Regions from separate parts of the Homo sapiens genome. Here region 2 is linked to region 1. Evidence: fine-mapped expression QTL. A gene starts in region 1. The other region holds a variant in brackets. All regions are shown on one strand. Distances are between the middles of the regions. Region 1 holds the start of CRISP3 (cysteine rich secretory protein 3). Region 2 has its middle 29 kb from the start of CRISP2.

What was found. PIP is the estimated chance that this variant, and not a neighbour inherited with it, causes the effect.
Region 2: its variant is fine-mapped to the expression of CRISP3 in whole blood (TOPMed, PIP above 0.99).

The regions. Positions count from the first base shown.
Region 1 is chr6:49,741,026-49,749,379 of GRCh38, forward strand. CRISP3 (cysteine rich secretory protein 3) reads right to left here and starts at 3,363. Exons shown (of 8, transcript NM_006061.4): 1 at 3,306-3,363. The coding sequence starts at 3,342.
Region 2 is chr6:49,680,168-49,688,521 of GRCh38, forward strand. It overlaps a transcript of CRISP2 not described here. Among named protein-coding and RNA genes, the nearest start is that of CRISP2, 29 kb to the right of the region's middle. The variant T/C (reference allele first, on the strand shown) is at 4,733.

The DNA of each region.
Region 1 (8,354 bases):
GGGAGGCAGAGCTTGCAGTGAGCCGAGATCGCGCCACTGCCCTGGGCGACAGAGCGAGACTCCGTCTCAAAAAAAACAAAAAACAAAAAACAAACAAACAAAAAAAACAAACAAAAAAAAACCACCAAAAAAAAAAAAACAAAAAACGAAAGTACCATCCTGTGTGAAGAACCAATGATAATAAGGTCATGTGTGATAGCACTCTCCAGTGCTCTTATACTCACGCCTTCTTACTCCCTAGTGTTGTATGGTTCAAATTAGCTTGACTACTTCCTCCCAATGCTGTTTTTTCCTGAAATGTAATCTGAGGAGTGGATATAATTCCGGGATTGACTCATAAAAGACGTAAGAATAATAGTAAATAATACATAAGCCCACTTCATAAATGAATTGCAAGAATCCTAACAAAATATTAACTCATCAATTTCAAAAATATATTAAAAATATCATGACCAAGTAAAATTATATGAGGACTGCAAGAATAATTCAAAATTAGAAAATTCATTGGTAAAATTCATCACATTAACAGACTAAAGCAAAGTAATATGACAAAAAATACGTCATTAAATTCAACCCCTGTATGTAGTTTTTTTTTTTTTTTTTTTTTTTAAAGAAAAAATAGAAGAGATCATTACTTTGGTAGGAAGCATATACTGCAAATCTATACCCAATATAATGGTTATTGGAGAAATTCTAGGTGCATTTCATTTAATATTGGGAACAAGAAAAGAATGACTAACACTTTTATTTAACACAGTACTGGAGAGATCCTAATCAAAGCCATAAGAAAAGAAAGTATATACATATATATATATATAATATATACAAGTAATGTAATGTATACATTTTATGTTATATATAATAATATAAAATATATTATTATATATAAAATATTTGTAACTTTTGTAAGAGAAGACGTAAAATTGTTATTGTTTTCAAATGATAAGATCATCTATCTGGAGAACACACCAAAATTAACAATTTTGCTAGATGCACTATCAACTTACAAAAATACCATTTCTATTACTGGAAACACTCAACTAGAATATAAGATTTAAGAAACACTTATAACAGTTAAAAAAACTATACAGTATCTGGGAAACAACAAAACAAATTTAAAAATCCTTTTTGGAAAAAATCTTAAAACTTTAATAAAGAACATAGCAGAAGTTCTGAATAAATTGAGAGTTTTGTAATGCTTTTAAATGGTACATGTTAGCATAAAGATATCAATCCTAAACTAACCTGATAATTGTTTACTTTAATTCCAATACAAATTTTAAGTGGCTTATGAATAACTGAGTAAACTTTTAAAAGAAGAATTGCTTGGGCGCAGTGGCTCATGCCTGTAATCCTAGCACTTTGGGAGGCCAAGGAGGGTGGGTTGCCTGAGCTCAGGAGTTTGAGACCACCCTGCGTAACATGGTGAAACCTCGTCTCTACTAAAACTACAAAAGTTAGCCGGGCATGGTGGTGCATGTCTGTAATCCCAGCTACTGGGGAGGCTGAGGCAGGAGAATTGCTTGAAACTAGGAGGTGGAGGTTGCAGCGAGCCGAGAGTGTGCCACTGCACTCCAGCCTGGGCGACAGAGCAAGACTCCATCTCAAAAAAAAAAAAAAAAAAAAGGAAGAAGAAAAGAAAAAGAAAAAAAAGAAAGAATTAATTGGGTTATCTTTTCATATTAGTTATTAAGATAGACTTCAAACATTTGTTGACAAAAATTTAATATTATTGTAGGAACAGATAAATCAACTGGTGGAGGAAAATACAAAACTTAAGAGACAGACCAAACATCGTAACATTAAAAAGCAAAGGAGGAAGAACAGACTATAGAAATATTTTAAAGGATTACGTGGATTAGAAAAGATGTCAAAAGCATTAACACATGTGAGTATAATGTGTGCACTATAGGTATAGACACATTTATAAACTAGTCACAGCACAGAAAAGTATTTGATGCAATATTTTCTTACTTAAAATTTAATAGTTAATCTTTATTCTGATCACTTTCTTTCATCTTATTATGTATCTGTGATACAGAAAGCAGCCTATGCCAATATGCAAAGTTTGCAAAACTGCTAGACTTCATCAAGTAAGAAATTCGTAAAGATATCCAAATAAGAATAGCTGTCTTGCATTTCTTGAGAAGCACTTTTTTTTCAAGGATGAATTCCCTCCCTTTTACTTGAATTCAATAAATAACGTAACTGAAATTCATAGCAATTATCAGATTTACATTACTTGAGAATTCTGACACTCTTCCTCCCAATTCATCCCTGCCTGTTACAAATCAGAAGCCCCAATTTACCTCATAACTTATCAATGTAGGGTAACTCCCAGGCTTGAAACTTGTCATCAATTTAATTTCTTTTGATCCACTTTCAGAGGTCTTAGTCATACAGGCAGACATTCTAGATTTGGTTTTAACTAGCAGAAGAGGCAACACCGGATCTTCTATGGCTATTGCAAATACTCCCAGAGTTTCCTGGATAGCATTTAGCCACAGGGAAGAAAAGCATTTTACTTTAAAATCTTCTGTCTAGTGGTAAATAACCCCTTTCATGTTGTCATTAGGTAGTTCTGTGGTCTCCTACTATCTGACTCTTCAGAATCACTTCTAATATGCTACGGAAGATAAAGCCGTATGTGGAAATTGCTTCCTTAGATGAAATATGCACGATAGATATTATATTTAAATTACCTACATAAACATGACTGAGTAGACTGACTTTTGACTGAAAAACTTCTAAAAGCCTTTTTTTTTTGTTTTTGATCTGAGTGCATTTCATGAGGTAAATTGCATTTTATGTTGATGGTCTTTAATAAAATACTTTTTAATCTTGAGATCAGTGCTATAATTTTGTTTTGACCAATTTAAAACTTTTGCTATGGCATCCCATATAGCTGTATGTTTTAATATTAGTAAAAGTTACTGATGTGAAAGTATGCACACACATATATTCATAGTTTTTCATTTTTCTATTAAAAATAGTTCTAGTACAATTGTTTCCACAAGTCATAGACATGGGAATTAGTTATATTACTTTAGAATGAAAGGTAAAAATTTATTTAAATTTCAAACTGGATAAAAGTGCTTTTGGAATAATAAAGCTGTCTATGTATTAGCTTCTCAGCTTAAAATGAATATATTAAGATAATTACTCTCATTAAAAGTTATCAATAAACTTTGGAAAATTGTAGATAAAATATACGAATATATCACTTTATCATTGATAAGGTATAAATGTGTTGTTCACCTTGAAATAAATAATGTTCACCTTGAAATAAAGGAGTTATCACTTACCAGTGGTTTCCAGAGCAGGATGAAGTATTTGTTTCATCTATTGACAGAAGGAAGGTGCAGAGAGAGAAGGTTAGAGCCGTATATATGAAACACCTATTTCCTGTTTTGGCAAATTCTGGTTGTGCAAGTAACTCTAGATCAACAAGGCCTGAAACAGGATTTGTCATACCAGTAGTCTCAAATTTCATTGCTGGTTTTCTAGTCATGATTTTGAAATTATTTGGTGATTCCTCAAATGGCTTTTAAAAATAAATTGCTATATCAAGTTTTGTAATTGTGCATTTATTCTTTGAAGTTCATATATTACAATTTATCCATGTTTTTGCCAGTCAATAGTTTGAAAATTCTTAGCCCAATTATTAGCATCACAACATTAGAGTTTTCAGAATTATTTCTGTTGGATTGAAATTAAGCTCATAATTTTTATGAACTCTAGAGAACACAATGTTTTTTACAGCTATCTAAAATGTTTATTAATAATCTATTGGACATTACTGTTTTGGATAATAATTTTATCTTTAATGTTTGTAAATACAAGGCCACAGTGACTTTCAGAACTCAATGGCCAAACACACCATAACTCATTGGTATTTCTATATTCAAAGATGTGCTGTATTTACTTGTATTTTCTGGTTGTATAAAATTAAAGATAATATTGATCTCCAAGCTAAATTATCATTATTTGGTTCTGTTCATCTATGGAAGATGTCAATCATTCCAGGCTTGTTTCCATAGCACAATAATGAAGTGGGGTGGACTAACAATTTCAGATTTCCTCTGATTCTAAAATACAATAATCTTAAATATTGAGTTTATATAAATAAAGAAGTATAAATTAATAAATCACAAGTAGCATATACATAGCACGCAGACATTTCTGCATGCTCATATTGGCATATAGATTGCACCTTGTGGTGCATAATTCAATAGTTTCTGTTCATTTTCATTTTTATATTTAGCTTTATTGATCAATGTGACAAAATGTATAATCACAGATCAATGTCTACACAATAGGCACATTTTAAAATTATAGTTAATTTTGAGTTCAAGAATTGGATACTTCTAAATGTCTGTTATAAGAGAGTTGAGAACTCAGAAACTCAGGTCAGATTTTACCATTAAAAAATGGTTAACCATTTGCTGCCATGTCTCCAAGTAACTCCTAGAATCTGTTTACTTTATGAACATGTGAAGTGGAAGCTCTCAATAAACCAAATCAGCTATGTGGAAAAAATCACCATGGAACAACCTTCTACACAATCCTCTTTCTGTGGCAAAATGTATTTTGTGGGGAAGGACCAGACCCAGAAGCATCCACAGCCCATTCTCTTCTCTACTTAGTGGTGTAGAATGTTGTTAAAAGCTTGATATTTCTGTTTTAATGGAAATGGGCTAAATTTCTATACCAATGTGTATTGGGAAATTTTTATATTTTATTATTTTATTTTATATCATATTTTATTTTATTTGAAGCAGGATCTCACTCTATCATCCAAACTGGAGTGCAGTGGTTAGATCAGAACTCATTGTAGCCTTGAATTTCTGGGCTCAAGGGATCTCCTATTTCAGCTTCCCAAGGAGCTGAGACCATGGTGTGCACTACTATACACAGCTAATTTTTTAAATTTTTTTGTAGAGACAGAGTCTTGCTATGTTGCCCAGCTAGTGTCGAATTTCTGGCTTCAAGCAATCCTCCTGTCTTGGCCTCCCAAAGTTCTGGACTTACAGGCATGAGCCACAGCACCTACTTTATTAGGAAATTATTATTCTGATTGTAAATTTTCATATTTATCATAAATGGGAATAATATTAATTGTATTTAATTGTGATACATAATATATGTAAGCTGCCTGCCATGTAGTAAGTATTTCCAGTGTTAATTCTCTCCCACTTTATGCACTTTTCTTCTGTATCTAGACAAACCTACCCCTAATATTTGTAAGCTGTGGGATTGCACTTGAGTTTTAGGACATGGTTTGACTTACTAAGCTATAGGCAGTTCTGTGAGAAATTACCATAAGTAGACACAAAACAGTATAAAAAGGAAAAATATTTTTGCCTCATTATTCAAACTTGATAGTTTTTCTCTAACTTTTTACTGAGTTATGACTAAATGACCACTAGATGCACCATGATGTAGAAGGCATTTTGCTTGTCAAATATTGGTACATTTATTATTAAGCTAAATAAGTATATGTGGTCTTTTTGGGTCACAAAATACCATACACACGTTGGACTGACAGACTGACTTCAATCTGACCTTAAGTGTCCAAAATGGCTGTTTCTAGTCACCTTTGTTCTCTCATTTCCCATGATTAGGTTGTCTTTTCTGTATTTACGTGTCCCAAGGTCATTGCTGGCCCTTCATGATCCATGTCTCCCAATTTTAGCAGTGAGTGTCTTCCAGCTCTTATTTGGATATCTAAGTTCCATCTTAAAAGAGCAAATAGTTTGTTCCTGTATATACATTTTAATCTATTCCCACTATTCTATTGAAACTTATCAATGAGTCTCTTAGCGACTGTTGCTATTAATCATTACATTTTGTTTTAGGAATGCTCCTTTTCTTACTCTTTAAAATTATTCTTCTATTCCTATGCTTTGACTAGTACAGTGTAACCAGATTGTCTATAATATGAATAAATAAAGCACAGCTTCCATCTCTTCCTAGTCAGCCCTTCTCTCATCTTAGATACAACAACATCTGAATGCTGCCTTCCTGGGATTTCTACACTGACCACCCAAAACTGACTAGTTATTACAAGGGCAACTGGGATCCCTGCCTTACAGCTGAACTCTTGACCCAGCTTTTTATGACTTTTACTTCCCCATTATTACCAACTACCTATAGTTTACTGATTACAGTCTTTGGAAATTGCCAGGTCTGAGAAATCCTTTCTGAGCTTCAGTTTTCTCTTCTCTGAAATGTGAATTTTCATATCATACGTTGGTTTTAATGACTGAAAAGCATAATTTGTGTATAAAAATGTACTGAATACATAATTAAACTATTAGTGCGATGCTTGGCATGTGACACTCAATAAATGGAATTATTAACATTTGTATTATTATCCCTTCCAAAGCCTGGTATTTCCTGAGTACATAAAAGTCTTCCACGAATGCATTTTGTTTGATTGAACTGCCAATTCAGGAGTCTTTATAAGAAGTCTTTCTTGTTTTAGGTATTTAGGAAACAATCATAGTTTAACCAGAAATTCAAGTGTTTAAGGTGCAGTTCTATCAAAGCCTGTCAGGGTGACTTTAACAAAATGATTGAGCATCTCTCATTTTCTGTATCCTCACCAATAAATTAAGGAGCACAGACTCAGGTGCATTTTAGAATTAGAATTAATTTTACTCTGCTCTCATTAATAAATAGTAGATTTATAAATCAGTTGTTGTTTTGTTGAATTATCCTTTAATATAATGGTTTAATTTAGTGACTTATTAATTTCCAAGAAAGGTATAGTCTGTGTGTCAATTTATTTGCATTTTTCTCTTGCTTCCTCAGTCCCTTTGGTTAATATCCTGATTACTTTTTGTCACTCAATGCCTAATTATATGAGTGAAATATCAGAATTATAAATTATTTATGTGTTTCACCATTCAGTGTATTATTTATTACACACACACAAACACACATGCACACACCCATATAAGATCACACGATCTTAGGTCAGGTTTGCAAGAAATACACTGAGACACAAATTACATTGGCTCTGATTTATTGAGGAAGTACATTGCAGCAGAAAGGAAAAGAGTGAAGCAGGTCAGGGGAGGACAAAGAGCTAAAGAAGAATGTGTTCTCAGGTAAAATCTAGTCTTCCCTGATTAATAGAGGCAGTGCTGCAGACAGCCTTTTTAAACCTATGAACAGTCAGTCATTAGTAACAGTGGGGAGATGACAAGGTGGTTCTCCTCTGCCAAAGGCAATTCTCTTGAGAGGGGGCAGATGTGGGCACAGTAGCTAATTCTCACAACATCTGGGGGACAGAAGCATTGCCTCTGGGATGGGATCTCTGTGCAATACCTAAACAGCATCCACCATAATATGGGATAATATTTGCATTATTACAATAGTTGCATATTATAAAGATGATGTAAAAAACAGTGAAGGTGCTTATCATGATCACATGATTCATTTATCTCATTTTAAAAGTGAAGGAGCAGACAAAATAACTTAAAAAGTCCTTCCATATTTAAAATTATGTATGTCTCTGTTTAAGGAAAAGGGAAAACAAGGCTCTGTCTTGCTTCTTTCACTAATTGGATGTATTTGTTTGCTAAGTCCTTGACTCTTGCTAGTCTTGGTTTTAATCCAATTCTGTTTTCTTGCCTGTAAAATAGAGACAAAAATAATACCTAGTGTTGTGAGGATCAAAATGTTGGTGTGTAGAAAACATTTTTTGACTGTACTAACCTGAGTGCTAAGAGAACTGAAAAATTCTGTCCCTGAGTTACTGAAGCAGTAAGACTAGCATGTGAAAAAAAAAAACTGTAGAAAAACATATGAATCCACGTGATTGGTGATAATATCTGTATTGCCCATTGTAATGGCTGTAAGAATTCAAGTAGAGGAATACACTTTATGGGTAAATAAAAGATGTTTATATACCAAAAATTGGAGATGAGTTGGTATTAATGGATGAACAAACTTTGGGCCCGAATGAAGTTAACAAATCCAACTTTGATTTTTTTCAATGTACATATTTATTTTTAAAATTGACATACAAAATCGTATGTATTTATAATGAACAACATGTCTTGTAGTAGAGTAAGTCCTCATACATCACAAATAGGTCCTGGAAAATGATGCATAAAAACAGCATTTTTTTCTCATTGACATTATAATGATATGATGTTGAAAAAAACGATGTTATTAAAAGATGTGCTGTATGTTGTTTCACTTGAAGTCGCAGTTTCCAAAAATGTATTGACTGTGTTAAATGAGGACTTACTGTATAAATACATTGTGGAATGGTTAAATCTAGATAACTAACAAATGCGTTACTTTTCTTAGTTTTTATTTTTGTGGTGAGAACACTTAAC
Region 2 (8,354 bases), 61 kb before region 1:
TAAGTTCCAGTGTGTGTTGTTCCCCTGTATGTGTCCATGAGTTCTCATCATTTAGCTCCCACTTATAAGTGAGAATATGTGGTGTTTGGTTTTCTGTTTCTGTGTTAGTTTCCTAATGATAATGGCCTCCAGCTCTATCCATGTTCCTGCATAGGACATGATCTCATTCTTTTTTATGGCTGCATAATATTCTATGGTGTATATGTACCACATTTTCTTTTTTCCAGTCTATCATTGATGGGCATTTAGGTTGATTCCATGTCTTTGCTATTGTGAATAGTGCTGCAATTAACATATATGTGCACGTGTCTTTATGATAGAACAACTCATATTCCTTTGGGTATATACCCAGTAATGGGATTGCTGAGTTGAATGGTATTTATGACTTTAGGTCTTTGAGGAATTGCCACACTGTCATCTACAATGGCTGAACTAATTTACACTCTCACCAACAGTGTATAAGCATTCCTTTTCTCCACAACCTTGCCAACATCTGTTATTTTTTGACTTTTTAATAACAGCTATTCTGACTGGTGTGAGACGGTCTCTCATTGTGGTTTTGATTTGCATTTCTCTAATGATCCGTGATGTTGAACTTTTTTGGTATGATTGTTGGTTGCATGAATGTCTTCTTTTGAAAAGTGTCTGTTCATATCCTTTTCCCACTTTTTAATGAGGTTTTATTTTTTCTTGTAAATTTAAGTTTCCTGTAGATGCTAGATATTAGACCTTTGTCAGATGCATAGTTTGCAAAAATTGTCACCCATTATGTAGGTTGTCTGTTTAATTGTTGATAATTTCTTATGCTGTACAGAAACTCTTTAGTTTAATCAGATCCCATTTGTTAATTTATGTTTTTGTTGCAATTGCTTTTGGCATCTTCATTATGAAATCTTTGCCCATGCCTATGCCCTAAATGGTATTTCCTAAGTTGTCTTCCAGAGTTTTTATAGTTTTGGGTTTTACATTTAAGTGTTTAATCCATCTTGAGTTAATTTTTATATATGGTCTAATGAAGGGGTCCAGTTTTAATCTTCTACATGTGGTTAGTCAGTTACCCCAGCACCATTTATTGAATAGGGAGTCCTTTCCCCATTGCTTGTTTTTGTCAGATTTCTCAGAGATCAGATAGTTGTAGGTGTGCTGTCTTAATTCTGGGTTCTCTATTCTGTTCCACTGGTCTGTTTATCTGTTTTTGTACTTACCAGTATCATGCTGTTTTGGTTACTAAGCCCTGTAGTAATTTTTCAACTAGATTAAGCATTTTTTCAACTAGATTAAGATATCCATAATAATATTAGTATATAGACCCACATTTGAACAAAGTACTTAATGAATTCTGCTGAAACTTTAGATTAAATGTGGGCAATAACATATAGATTTATAAAACAGAATCAATTTTGATTTATATTTATAAACTATCAAAAAGAAACAAATTTAGTGTAGCAAATTTAAAAATTATATTTTACTGTTTTACATATAATATCATGGTTTAAAAATGATGAAATCACTTTAAATTGGAGGAATTTCTCATAGATTAATGCCAAAGTTTTCTTTTATTTTTTTCCCAGGCTGGCCTCAAACTACTGAGTTCAAGCAATCCTCCTATCTCAGCCTCCTAAGTAGCTTGGATTCCAAGTGCACACCACCATGCCCAGCTTCAAGATTTTTTTTTGCCCTTTCCATTTGTCATATGTTAATCAATATGTTGCTTTCCTCCTTGTCATTATTCCTTGTTAACTGACAGTGATCTCATGATCACCTTGAAATGTTTTTTAATATCCCCCAAGCATTTAAATAATTATTTACTATGTCCTCACAGGTTAGATCATTCTTTTTCTCCTTCAGATAATTGTGCCAGGCTGTAGAGTTTAAAGATCCATCTCCGTGAAATAAAGTAATAAAAAATAAAAGTTAAATAATCATCTGTCTCTCTGGCATCTATACTATACTATTTCATCCTTTCCTCATCTTCTTGTTTTTGACACTTTTGGTGGACCTTTGCTCTTATTTTCACAAACTTTTTTAAATTCTGGGATTTAGCATATTGTTTCACTTACTTCCCAGGAATCTCAGGTGGTATTGTGGCTTTAGGTGCCGTCTATACAAAGATGATTTTCAAATCTTTATCTCCATTTTAGACTAAATCCCTCCTTATATATTCAACTGTCTTCTCTATGCCTACACTTTCAACATGTCCAAACTGAACACCTGATTTAGTTCTAGCAACCATATAACATACTCTAGTTATCTATTTATTTTCTTTCTCTCTTTCCCTTTCTTCCTTCCTTCTTCCCCATCCCTCCCTCCCTCCCTCCTCCTCCTCCTATTCCTCCTGTTCCTCCTCTTCCTCCTTCTCCTTCCTTCCCACCTCCCTCCTTCCCTCCATCTTTCTCTTTCTTTCTTTTTCTTTCTTTCTTTTTCTTTCTTTCTTTCTTTCTTTCTTTCTTTCTTTCTTTCTTTCTTTCTTTCTTTCTTCTTTCTTTCTTTTCTTTCTTTCTTCTCTCTCTTTCTGTCTCTTTCTCTTTCTTTTTCTTTTTTCTCTTTCTTTTTCTCTTTCTTTTTCTTTCTTTTTTCTTCCTTCTTTTTCCTTCCTTCCTCCCTCCCTTCCCTCATTCCTGCCCTCTCTCCTTCTCTTCCTCCTTTCCCTCCTTCCCTCCATCCCTTCCTCCCTTCCTCCCTTCTTTTCTTCCTGTTTCAAGTTGAGGTTACCAGGCACAGTGGCTCACACCTGTAATCTCAGCACTTTGTGAGGCCGAAAAGGGGGGATCACCTGAGGTCAAGAGTTCAGAACCAGCCTGGCCAACATGGCGAAACCCCATCTCTATTAAAAAACAAAAATTAGCTGGGCATGGTGGCATGTGCCTGTAATCCCAGCTAATCTGGAGGCTAAGGCAGGAGAATTGCTTGAACCCGGAAGGCAGAGGTTGTAGAGAGCTGAGATCACGCCATTGCACTCCAGCCTGGGCGACATGAGTGAAACTCCATCTCAAAATAAATAAATAAATAAATAAATAAATAAATAAATAAATAGAGACATGCAGTGTATACAATACAGCACACAAAATCTTAATTGCATAGCTCATTTAATTTCTAAACATGTGTATACCTATGTAAATAGCACTCTAAAGGGCTCCTTCATGTTCACCCAACCAGGACCCTTCAAGGTTTAATCCATTTCTTGTCACCATTTTTATAATTATGGGTTTTTAATATAATAGAAACAGCCGGGCGCAGTGGCTCATGCCTGTAATCCCAGCACTTTGGGAGGCTGAGGCAGGCAGATCACGAGGTCAGCAGTTCAAGACCAAGATGGTGAAACCTCGCCTCTACTAAAAATACAAAAATTAGCCGGGCACGGTGGCAGGCGCCTGTAATCCCAACTACTTGGGAGGCTGAGGCAGGAGAATCACTTGAACTGGCGGGATGGAGGTTGCAGTGAGCCGAGATCATGCCACTGCACTCCAGCCTGGGCAGCAGAGTGAGACTCCATTTCAAAAAAAAAAAAAAAAAAAAAAAAAAAAAAAATATATATATATATATATATATATATATAGAAGTTGATAGGACTAAGTCACTATGTAATTTATAAAGACATATTCTAAGCCTGACTACCATTGAACTAAAGGTTTTAAATGTCACATTGTCAAAAGTGAACACATTTTCATGAATACAGAACAAGTAATCTACCTAAGAGCTTTATATAAAGGAAATATTTATTTTCAAATTAAATGTCCAGTTTGAATATATTTTTCATTCAAGCTATGAGCTAATTTTAGTTTTCATCAGGAAGCAGAATTGTGGTAGTGCTTAAAAGTATAAGACTTTGAGTCCTACTATATCTGTACTGAGTACATGCTTTGATGTTCCTTGGCTGATTGTATCTGGGCAAAGTACTTAATCTTCCTATCCTTGTTTCCTCATCCGTAAAATAAAGAGAAAGGAATATTGGGAGGATAAAGTGCAAAAATGAATATAATCGTCCCTCAGTAGCAATGGGGGATTTATTCTAAGACCCTTTGAAGATACGAAAATCCACTGAAGCTCAAGTCCTTTATATAAAATGGTGTAGCATTTGTTATGACCTACACACACCCTCCCACATACTTTAAAACATCTCTAGATTGCTTATAATACCAGATACAATTTAAATCCTATACAAACAATTGTTATATTGTATTTTTTAGGGAATAATGACAAGAAAAAGTCTGTGCATGTTCAATACATATGCAACCATCTGTATAGTACTTTTTTCCTACTATTTTTGATGATCAGTGGTTAGTTGAATCCATGGACGTAGAACTCACAGATATGGAGGACCGACTATATAAGGAATTCAGCATGGCCCCTGGGATACAGTATGTTTTCTAATTAACTTCTGCAGTGCTAAGGGGAAGCAGAGAAGAAAATTAAAATGTATTGAGTATCATTAGTACCTCTTACTCTTGAATATCTTACATACTTAACTTAAAAAAGAAATCTACTTAATTTGAAATAAATCAATATCCAATGGCATTAAAATTTTAACATGTAAATTAGGGGTATCTTATACAATCATATTTCTCAATACCATGGGGTTTAAGATCATTCTCATTGTTTTTATATGTGGATGTGTTTGGATTTGTGTGCCACATACATACACACACTTATATAGTTTTCCCCTCTACCTACTATTGAAAGGGACAGAAAGTCTAAACTTTCAGTCAATTAGTACTGGGTATCCTTTGGCTCA[T/C]AGAGACTTTTTGCATGCATACTAACAGAACTTTCATCTCCTCTGTAGCATATCCCCTTTTGTTACTCTCTACTCCAGCCTCTTTCACAGCTCTGGGATGCTAAGGACTCTGATGCCTGGGAACTCTGTGAGCACACTGCCAATAGTTCCAGGTCTCACAAATGAGTTTCTGTTTTGGGCTCCCCGGATGCCTCCCATGGCTGCCATTGCCTCATCAGCCCCCACTGCCTTTGCCACTGGCCACCAATGCTGCAGTGATAAAGATGGACACTTCATATGAGCAGCATGAAATGGTGTTTTCTGAAATTTCCTCTAACTTAAAGTCACACTGTGTTCCTTTAGAAAGTCGTAAGACAGCATTTCCGCCCTTTGGTGTTACACTGTATCATTTTATGAATCATTTTTATGATCCTAAGGAAAGGTTGTCTCTGCAGTGACTGGAGATGTCTATGTCCTTATTTCCTACTTCTAAAATTATCAACTGATGAAGGCAGGGACTCACTTTGTTCACTGGTATTTCCCTGACAGCTCTGTTTATCTTTGTATGTTAAAAACCATAAATTCATACCGATACCACCAATTTCAATAGAACACCACAGGGTTTATTCCTACATTCTCCTTTCTCATATGTTTAAATCCCTTCTCTAATAGTGAGAAACCTGGTTCTCATTATTCATAATGTATTTATTCATTTGTTCAGTCGTAACATATATAGTCAGTTTCAGAACTACTAACTCATGTGTCTATGGTAAAAATAAACACAACTTTATTGACTGGAGTCAAACATTTGTTTGCAGTTTTTATCTTTACCTAGAAGGAATATGGCATTATAATACTCATTAGGTCGGCTGTTTTTTCCCCCACTTTTTATTGTGATTATTTATTTGAAATATAGTTTGTTTTTTGTTTCTATCCTGTTTTTGGGCTTTCCCCCACTTCTTAATTATATTAATTATACTTTATTTTAATGAGTATGTAAGACATTAATATAATTCACAAGCTGAAACTATACAAAGAGGAATACCCAGAGAAATATCACTCCTCCCAACCATTTTTTCTTACACCATTGTCATCCTCCAACCAGCCCACCCCATTCTCAGCCACCCATGGTATACTAGTGTCAATACTTTCTAGTATACTCTATGTTGCATCAACATTTTGCAAAAATGTGAAGCCATATATTTTTTGTATTTATCATTTTTTAATACAAAAAGTAGAATACTATAAAAATGTTTTGCTCTTCGCTGTCTTTCAATTAGCAATATATACTGAAGATACGTCCATATCAGCTCATAAATATCCTTATTATTCATTTTAAAAGCTGCATAATAATCAATTGTGTGGATGCATTGTAGTTTATTTAACCTGCCTTTTGTGTATGTATAGATTATTTCCAATACAAATAACATTTTAATAAATAATCTTGCACATATGTATTTTCATATTCTTGGAACAACAATATGAAATTGCTAGAAGCGAATTAATGATCATTTCTAAAGGACTGGTAGAGTAAAGGATAAATGCACATGCAACTTTGTTAGATATTGCCAAATTTCCCTCTCTGGTTTCAAAATGAAAATACCAATAAAAAACCCACAATGAGATACCATCTCACACAAGTTAGAAAGGCGATCATTAAAAAGTCAGGAAACAACAGGTGCTGGAGTGGATGTGGAGAAATAGGAACACTTTTACACTGTTGGTGGGACTGTAAACTAGTTCGACCATTGTAGAAGTTGGTGTGGCGATTCCTCAGGGATCTAGAACTAGAAATACCATTTGACCCAGCCATCCCATTACTGGGTATATACCCAAAGGATTATAAATCATGCTACTATAAAGACACATGCACACATATGCTTATTGCGGCATTATTCACAATAGCAAAGTCTTGGAACCAATCCAAATGTCCAACAATGATAGACTGGATTAAGAAAATGTGGCACATATACACCATGGAATACTATGCAGCCATAAAAAATGATGAGTTCATGTCCTTTGTAGGGACATGGATGAAGCTGGAAACCATCATTCTCAGCAAACTATCTCAAGGACAAAAAACCAAACACCGTATGTTCTCACTCATAGGTGGGAATTGAACAATGAGAACACATGGATACAGGAGGGGAACATCACACACCAGGGATGGTTGTGGGATGGGGGGAGAGGGGAGGGAGAGTGTTAGGAGATATACCTAATGCTAAATGATGAGGTAATGGGTGCAGCACACCAACATGTCACATGTATACATATGTAACAAACCTGCACATTGTGCACATGTGCCTAAAAAAGCCTTTAATTTTTAAATACAATTATCAGTACTGTCTATAAGCCTAAAACTTTAATTTTAATCTTATACTTAACAAATATACAATGTATAAAATATTAAGTGAAATGTTTTATTAATGTATTAGCATATTCAATAAATAAATATGAACTAGCATATGTAGTATAAACGTTGATAAAGCATGAATCATTCTCAAGCTACTAAAAATTTCTTTTTCTTACATCACTTTCTGCCAGGAGTAATATTATCTAACTCTTCCTGTCCTTTGACATCACTGGAAGCATCACATTGAGCTTCTAAATTTTCTATGCAGAAACTTTTCATTCCTAGAATCTTGAAATTCAGTGTTCTCGCACAAAACTCTTGTCATGCGAACAAGGGCAAATGACCACACAGTACCCATGCCAAAACTGCTGGAGTTGGGATTACTGGGGAAAATTCATAGAGGAGGGGTCAGAGGGTTAATCTGTTGTTCATCACCATTTGGGTCAGTGTGAAGAGATACAGTAGGTTCAGACATGAGACTGTTAGAGATTTCCATCCTTGAGCCCTGGAGCCTTTAAGTTTCACGATCACACAACGTGGGTTTCTCCTCTCATGTACTCAGGGGCGAGGATCAGAAGTGAAATGAACCTTGCTTCAGTTCCACTGTGGTACCTCTGCTTTCTGGATTGGGGCAGGCTTGGGGGACAGTTACCCCTCCCCTGATGCAGCAGAGGCCTGGGATCTAAGCCGGATGGTTAAAGTCACATGGCGTAACAAATAAACAACAGTATTAGGCACACCTGTGTTCACAACTGGGGAAATACCAGCCCTTCCTTTGATATGCCGAGGGACTGATGTTCAAGTTTTGAGAAACTGTCTCAATCACTGGGCCATAGCTTGTTGCCATGGAGCTTTGAAGGAAGTCAGTCCCATCTCTGGGAGGTCAACCTGCAATGGATGAGTCCTAAGACAAGCAAAGTCTTACTGTTCACTCTTAGTTTTACATCTTTAAAACAAATTAACAAAACTATGGTTCTGAAAAATTAAGTGACATGCATATTTACAGTTGGAGAAAAGCTTGAACAGGATTCAGTTTTCCTTGTATTTAGAAAAGCGTGTTTGTTTTTGTGTTATGTGGTGCTTCTTCTGTTAATACTAGAAGACTTTAAGATAAGGATGTTTCTTTTTTATTTTTTAAGGCTAGTCAACTGGGAAATATACAGAATATAAATACAAATAAAATACAAAATAAAAATGCTTTTTTTTTCAATTAGGAAAATACATTAAAATATTATCTGCCACAAATGAGTCACTGGGCATTTACTAGCAACCTAGCTGGTAACTAATTGG